Homo sapiens: one gene and its partner. The protein of the gene in region 2 purifies or fractionates together with the protein of the main gene of each other region. This does not show direct contact. Each region holds a gene or a part of one and is shown on either strand. Other genes may lie near its edges.

Evidence for each region. The genes of interacting proteins can lie anywhere in the genome.
Region 1: the proteins of TAS1R3 (region 2) and LRRC3 purify together in Homo sapiens (affinity purification with mass spectrometry; one large-scale study listed by BioGRID and IntAct). This does not show direct contact.

The regions. Positions count from the first base shown.
Region 1 is NC_000021.9:44,459,419-44,462,696, forward strand, and holds the end of LRRC3 (leucine-rich repeat-containing protein 3 precursor), read left to right. Parts: 3' UTR 1-2,778; downstream 2,779-3,278.
Region 2 is NC_000001.11:1,329,955-1,334,079, forward strand, and holds the start of TAS1R3 (taste receptor type 1 member 3 precursor), read left to right. Parts: upstream 1-1,325; 5' UTR 1,326-1,391; coding exon 1,392-1,582; intron 1,583-1,683; coding exon 1,684-1,984; intron 1,985-2,069; coding exon 2,070-2,852; intron 2,853-2,966; coding exon 2,967-3,170; intron 3,171-3,304; coding exon 3,305-3,425; coding exon of another isoform or gene 3,426-3,551; coding exon 3,552-4,125. UniProt on the Homo sapiens protein: Putative taste receptor. TAS1R1/TAS1R3 responds to the umami taste stimulus (the taste of monosodium glutamate). TAS1R2/TAS1R3 recognizes diverse natural and synthetic sweeteners.

The DNA of each region.
Region 1 (3,278 bases), on a different chromosome or scaffold from region 2:
GATGCAGGTAGGGCAGGTGAACTGTTGCTGGCCTGGCCAGCAGGCCTAGGGTCACATGGTGATTGGCGTCCTCCTGCCACCCCTTCTCCATGCCAGGGTGCCTGTGGTGGGTTTGCCCAGCACGCATGACCCCAGGTCCCAAGGAGAGTGTGAACTGAGGCCTGGGTGGTGAAGGCAGGGCCTCTCCTCAGCCCTGTGTCCTGTGGGTGCCAGCCAGTCCCATCTCGCATTTTGGGGTGCCCTTTCCCTGCTGCCAGGGGACTCTTCATTTGTCCTTACCCTAGAATCAGCCCAGACACTGGACATCACCCAGACGTGGCCCTTCAGGAGGTGCACAGGGCAGGGGCAGGCCCGTCCCTCCCTGCCCCAATTTGCTGGGCTGCCTCAGCCCAGGGTCTGGCCTTCTCCTTGGTGAAGGTCTGCTGGGCCCCTGTCCACCTCCTGCTGGGAGGAGGAGATGGGGAGAGGACCAGGAGGACACCGGAGGCCCTGTCCCCTGCACTGTGAGCTCAGTCAGGTCCATGAGCTGCCCACCGTCCTGGCCTTACTGTGCCCCCTGCCCCACCAACATAGGTGAAAGCACCTCCCCTCTAAGGAAGACCATAGAGACCCCAACACTGTGGGACCCCAAAGCTCCTTCATGCTCACTGGAGCTCCCACCGTGGGTGCTTGCAAGTCCTCAGCGCTCCCGGGGTACAGCCCTCCCCTTCCTGCCCTCTAATGTCCTCCCCTCCCTTGCCCTTCCCTCCACTTCCTTTCTCTGCCGTCCCCTCCTCTCCCATCTTGTGACCTCTTTACTGGCGGGGCCTGGAGCCCATGATGGACACTTGCGGAAGGAGGGGTGGCGGAGCACCCCTGAGATGACATCGCTGCCTGCCCCAGAGCACCCCGCCTCTCCCTGTGACTCAGTTCTTTGCAGCCCAGATGTGAGCATGTGCACCCTGGGACCTGCTGCCCGTTGGGATGCCCAGGCCAAATCAGCCCCTCTGCCTCCATGCTGCACTGATTGCAAGAGTTTCCCACATCTGCAGAGGCCGTGGGCTCAGCCCCACACCAGCCAGGCCACCAGTGTTGATAGCGGTGAGGCGGGGACAAAGGGAATGTCTCAGTTCACAGTGTGGACATGGTGGAGGTCTCGGCCTTGCGAGACAAGGCAGGGGGAGGGGATAGGAAATTGGGGGTATTCTGTGACTCCTGGGCCACCGGGGAGCCAGAATCTTCCAGCCAGACTGGATGGGCAGGGCTTAGCTTCCTGATGCCGCCCATTCACCACTTTCACCCCGGGAACCTACCTGGGCATCATGGGAGGCAGAGCCTGAACCCCAACCCAACCCTAACTCTAATGCTAACCCCTAAACCATCCCCCACCCTAACCCAATCCTCGCCCTAACCCTAATGCTAACCCCTGACCCGACCCAATCCTAACCCTGATGCTAACCCCTGACTCAACTCTCACCCTAACCCTGATGCTAACCCCTGACCCAATCCTCACCCTAACCCTGATACTAACCCTTAACCTAACCCAACCCAGCCCTAACTCCAACTCTAAAGCTAACTCCTAACCCTAGGAGAGGAGCCCAGGCCGGGCCCTCTCCCTGCTGGTTTCCTGTTGGGCTTTGGAGCCCCAGATGCCTGCCCAGAGGCTTCCTTGTGCGGGGTGGGGTCCAGCAGTGGGGGATGGGCCCAGAGCTGGTATAGCCACCAGCAGAGCCATCCTGATCCACAGGACCATCCCTGGTGGGGTGGGGCCCCCTGGGGCAGGAAGGCCACTGAGGCCAGGGAGACTCCCAGGCCCACTCACGGCGCAGGCCCCACAGGAGCTGGCTGGAGGCTATGGGTGCGGGGCGTGGGCCTGCCGGGGGTTGCGTGACAGGCAGTGGGGAGTGGGTTGTGCTGGCAGCTGTGGGTGAGTGAGGAGGCTCCTCTCATGAAGGGCCCTGGGGAAGTGGAATCTGGCCCTGAGAGACCCCCGGCCTCCTCTGCAGGGGCTGCTGGCAGGAGGGGAACCGGGGACCACCTCCCGCCACAGAGCCTGGGGCCCCCAGCCTTGCCTACAGGGAGGGTAGATGAGAGTGTAAACTGCATATGAGGTTGGGCTAAACCTGGACATGTGTTTCATAACCAAAGCAGCCAGGAATCTCCGGCTCTGCCCAGTGATCATCTGGGCAGGACATGGGGACGAGTGTCCAGGCTGAAGTCAGGGCCCGGCCAGCAGAGGGCCATTTTGTATTGAGCTCCACAGCTGGTCACATTCTGTGGAATGTGCAGACGTGCACGGCCCATCAGACAGGGTCTGGAGTGGGGCTGCCGTCTTGGGCAGCTCCTCCCGGGTGTCTGCAAAATGCAGAGGTCACCAGAGCCAAGGCAGCAAGGCAAGGAGCCCGGCTTCTAAGGAACTCTGAGCAGGTGTGGTCCATGGCTGGGAGGCAGCTGGCCCCACAGCACATAGCACGGAGGGCGGCGCGGAGTCCTGGACGCTCTTGGCAGGTCCCCTCATGGAGGATGTGGGGGATTGGCTTAGGCCTGGTCTGGCTGGCCTTCCTGGACCGCAGTGGCCAGGAGCTGAAAACCGTGACCCCAGTCTCCCTGCAGCTGTTCTTGATGGGATTTCTGTTCGCCAGTCAGATGCATTTGCACAGGACTTGGATCCTGAACTGTGTAACCTGGAGAGGCAGGTGTGAGCGGGCCATGCTGCTGGCCCAGCCTGTGCCGGTGTCTGTTTCTGTTGTCTCTCGGCCCTTCTGTGAGCCCTCAGTAAAGCTCTTCGTGCTTCAGTCAGCAAGTGTGGATTCTGTCGTCGGCAACTCTGCGGCCCAAACCCCGAGCCTCCCCCTCCCCCAGACCTTGCAGTGCCATGGAGCTGAGGGACCTGTGGATCCACAGCTGTGGCCCCGGAAGGGCTGCAGGAGCTGAACCTGCGTGAGCCCCGCAGAGGGTGCAGAGCCGGCTTGTGCAGGCTCCCAGCAGGCTCATGACAGCGCGGATGGTTAAATGTAGCTCCTGACAGCCAACTGTTAAGGTTTCAGGCATTTTTGCACCAGGTGACATGATGGTAGCCTGAACGTGACCTTGGCAGCAGTCTCTACATCAAGGAAACTGGCAAATGTCAACATGCTGGGTACCCTCGCTCCTGCCGCCGCAGGCTGTCAGTGTCTTCCAGCCCACACTGCGGGGGGCCTTGTTGTGTGGCTGCCTCCCAGGCTGGGGCGAGGGTCTCCAGAGACCACCATCGTGCAGGCTCTTGGTCAATAGCAGGGTGTGGTGCTCCTGCCAGGGGA
Region 2 (4,125 bases):
GTTTTGTGTGTGCCATGCGCGTGTGCCATGCACTTGCCGTGCGTGTGCCATTTGTGTGTACCATGCGCATGTGCCATTCGTGTGCACCGTACACGTGTGCCATTTGCATGTATGCTGTGCACGTGTGGCATGCATGTGTGCCGTTTGCATGCCATGCATGTGTTCCTTGCGTGTGCCGTGCGTGTCCCATGCACGTGTGCCGTGCATGTGCCATTCGCGTGTACCATGCGCATGTGCCGTTTGTGTGTGTGCCGCATTCCTGTGCTCGTGTGCCAGGTTCGCATGTGCGCCATATTCACGTGTGCTCAGCATGTGCCATATGCATGTGCGGTGGTAGTGTGTGTCCCTCACAGGTCCTCCTCACAACACCATGGGGAAGAAGCACCAGCCAGGGCACACCTCCTGGTATCTGCTAGGTCTGCCAGGCCCTAGCTGAAGCTGAGTGCCCCCCAGTTCCCCTGGGAGGGCCTGCGCCTGGAGTCTGCTGTGTCCCCGAGGGCACCCCCAAAGCAACACAGAGGCAGAGGAGTCCCGGCCCTGCACACCTGGTGCTGCTCCAGCTGCCGCTCATTTGCCTGTGGCCCTTCCTCCCTTGTTTGCGTGCCCCCCTGGCAAACAAACTCTACCCCCAGCAGGAGCCACCTGTGTGCCTGCCACGCAGGAGTGGCCCAGACGGGGGTCAGCAGTGTGAGTACAGCTGGCCATGCGGTTCCTACAGCTTCCAGGCGTCAGACTCTGGCAGAAGGGCTGAGACCCTCAAGGAACTCTGCTCCCAAGCAGACTGGGAGGGCAGCACCACCACCCCAGGGCCCTCCCCAGCTGCAGGGTGGAGGCCTGGCTGGCCGGCTGCCCACTGGCCTGACTGGTCTGCAGGCCTAGGGGGCCCATCCCTGCTGCCCCCGGCTCCGGCCAGCACAGCCTTGAGTGGGAGCCAGAAGCTCCCGGGGCTGGGTAGGAGGCATTTCTGTGCTTATGAAAAGCCCCAGGGCTGGGTGTCTCTGCATCCCTCCCACGCAGCTGAGACCTCAGAGCCCTGGAGGCCCCTTTGCCCCCTCTCCTCTCCACAGCCTGCTGGGCAACTCCAGGAATCGGGGGGTGGCAAGGGGCTCAGCCACAGGCAGGGAACAAGGCCACGGCCAGCAACTGAGCAGAGCCTGCCTGCCGGTCAACGCTGGCCATAGAGCCTGGCAGTGGCCTCAGGCAGAGTCTGACGCGCACAAACTTTCAGGCCCAGGAAGCGAGGACACCACTGGGGCCCCAGGGTGTGGCAAGTGAGGATGGCAAGGGTTTTGCTAAACAAATCCTCTGCCCGCTCCCCGCCCCGGGCTCACTCCATGTGAGGCCCCAGTCGGGGCAGCCACCTGCCGTGCCTGTTGGAAGTTGCCTCTGCCATGCTGGGCCCTGCTGTCCTGGGCCTCAGCCTCTGGGCTCTCCTGCACCCTGGGACGGGGGCCCCATTGTGCCTGTCACAGCAACTTAGGATGAAGGGGGACTACGTGCTGGGGGGGCTGTTCCCCCTGGGCGAGGCCGAGGAGGCTGGCCTCCGCAGCCGGACACGGCCCAGCAGCCCTGTGTGCACCAGGTACAGAGGTGGGACGGCCTGGGTCGGGGTCAGGGTGACCAGGTCTGGGGTGCTCCTGAGCTGGGGCCGAGGTGGCCATCTGCGGTTCTGTGTGGCCCCAGGTTCTCCTCAAACGGCCTGCTCTGGGCACTGGCCATGAAAATGGCCGTGGAGGAGATCAACAACAAGTCGGATCTGCTGCCCGGGCTGCGCCTGGGCTACGACCTCTTTGATACGTGCTCGGAGCCTGTGGTGGCCATGAAGCCCAGCCTCATGTTCCTGGCCAAGGCAGGCAGCCGCGACATCGCCGCCTACTGCAACTACACGCAGTACCAGCCCCGTGTGCTGGCTGTCATCGGGCCCCACTCGTCAGAGCTCGCCATGGTCACCGGCAAGTTCTTCAGCTTCTTCCTCATGCCCCAGGTGGGCGCCCCCCACCATCACCCACCCCCACCCAGCCCTGCCCGTGGGAGCCCCTGTGTCAGGAGATGCCTCTTGGCCCTTGCAGGTCAGCTACGGTGCTAGCATGGAGCTGCTGAGCGCCCGGGAGACCTTCCCCTCCTTCTTCCGCACCGTGCCCAGCGACCGTGTGCAGCTGACGGCCGCCGCGGAGCTGCTGCAGGAGTTCGGCTGGAACTGGGTGGCCGCCCTGGGCAGCGACGACGAGTACGGCCGGCAGGGCCTGAGCATCTTCTCGGCCCTGGCCGCGGCACGCGGCATCTGCATCGCGCACGAGGGCCTGGTGCCGCTGCCCCGTGCCGATGACTCGCGGCTGGGGAAGGTGCAGGACGTCCTGCACCAGGTGAACCAGAGCAGCGTGCAGGTGGTGCTGCTGTTCGCCTCCGTGCACGCCGCCCACGCCCTCTTCAACTACAGCATCAGCAGCAGGCTCTCGCCCAAGGTGTGGGTGGCCAGCGAGGCCTGGCTGACCTCTGACCTGGTCATGGGGCTGCCCGGCATGGCCCAGATGGGCACGGTGCTTGGCTTCCTCCAGAGGGGTGCCCAGCTGCACGAGTTCCCCCAGTACGTGAAGACGCACCTGGCCCTGGCCACCGACCCGGCCTTCTGCTCTGCCCTGGGCGAGAGGGAGCAGGGTCTGGAGGAGGACGTGGTGGGCCAGCGCTGCCCGCAGTGTGACTGCATCACGCTGCAGAACGTGAGCGCAGGGCTAAATCACCACCAGACGTTCTCTGTCTACGCAGCTGTGTATAGCGTGGCCCAGGCCCTGCACAACACTCTTCAGTGCAACGCCTCAGGCTGCCCCGCGCAGGACCCCGTGAAGCCCTGGCAGGTGAGCCCGGGAGATGGGGGTGTGCTGTCCTCTGCATGTGCCCAGGCCACCAGGCACGGCCACCACGCCTGAGCTGGAGGTGGCTGGCGGCTCAGCCCCGTCCCCCGCCCGCAGCTCCTGGAGAACATGTACAACCTGACCTTCCACGTGGGCGGGCTGCCGCTGCGGTTCGACAGCAGCGGAAACGTGGACATGGAGTACGACCTGAAGCTGTGGGTGTGGCAGGGCTCAGTGCCCAGGCTCCACGACGTGGGCAGGTTCAACGGCAGCCTCAGGACAGAGCGCCTGAAGATCCGCTGGCACACGTCTGACAACCAGGTGAGGTGAGGGTGGGTGTGCCAGGCGTGCCCGTGGTAGCCCCCGCGGCAGGGCGCAGCCTGGGGGTGGGGGCCGTTCCAGTCTCCCGTGGGCATGCCCAGCCGAGCAGAGCCAGACCCCAGGCCTGTGCGCAGAAGCCCGTGTCCCGGTGCTCGCGGCAGTGCCAGGAGGGCCAGGTGCGCCGGGTCAAGGGGTTCCACTCCTGCTGCTACGACTGTGTGGACTGCGAGGCGGGCAGCTACCGGCAAAACCCAGGTGAGCCGCCTTCCCGGCAGGCGGGGGTGGGAACGCAGCAGGGGAGGGTCCTGCCAAGTCCTGACTCTGAGACCAGAGCCCACAGGGTACAAGACGAACACCCAGCGCCCTTCTCCTCTCTCACAGACGACATCGCCTGCACCTTTTGTGGCCAGGATGAGTGGTCCCCGGAGCGAAGCACACGCTGCTTCCGCCGCAGGTCTCGGTTCCTGGCATGGGGCGAGCCGGCTGTGCTGCTGCTGCTCCTGCTGCTGAGCCTGGCGCTGGGCCTTGTGCTGGCTGCTTTGGGGCTGTTCGTTCACCATCGGGACAGCCCACTGGTTCAGGCCTCGGGGGGGCCCCTGGCCTGCTTTGGCCTGGTGTGCCTGGGCCTGGTCTGCCTCAGCGTCCTCCTGTTCCCTGGCCAGCCCAGCCCTGCCCGATGCCTGGCCCAGCAGCCCTTGTCCCACCTCCCGCTCACGGGCTGCCTGAGCACACTCTTCCTGCAGGCGGCCGAGATCTTCGTGGAGTCAGAACTGCCTCTGAGCTGGGCAGACCGGCTGAGTGGCTGCCTGCGGGGGCCCTGGGCCTGGCTGGTGGTGCTGCTGGCCATGCTGGTGGAGGTCGCACTGTGCACCTGGTACCTGGTGGCCTTCCCGCCGGAGGTGGTGACGGACTGGCACATGCTGCCCACGGAGGCGCTGGTGCACTGCCGCACACG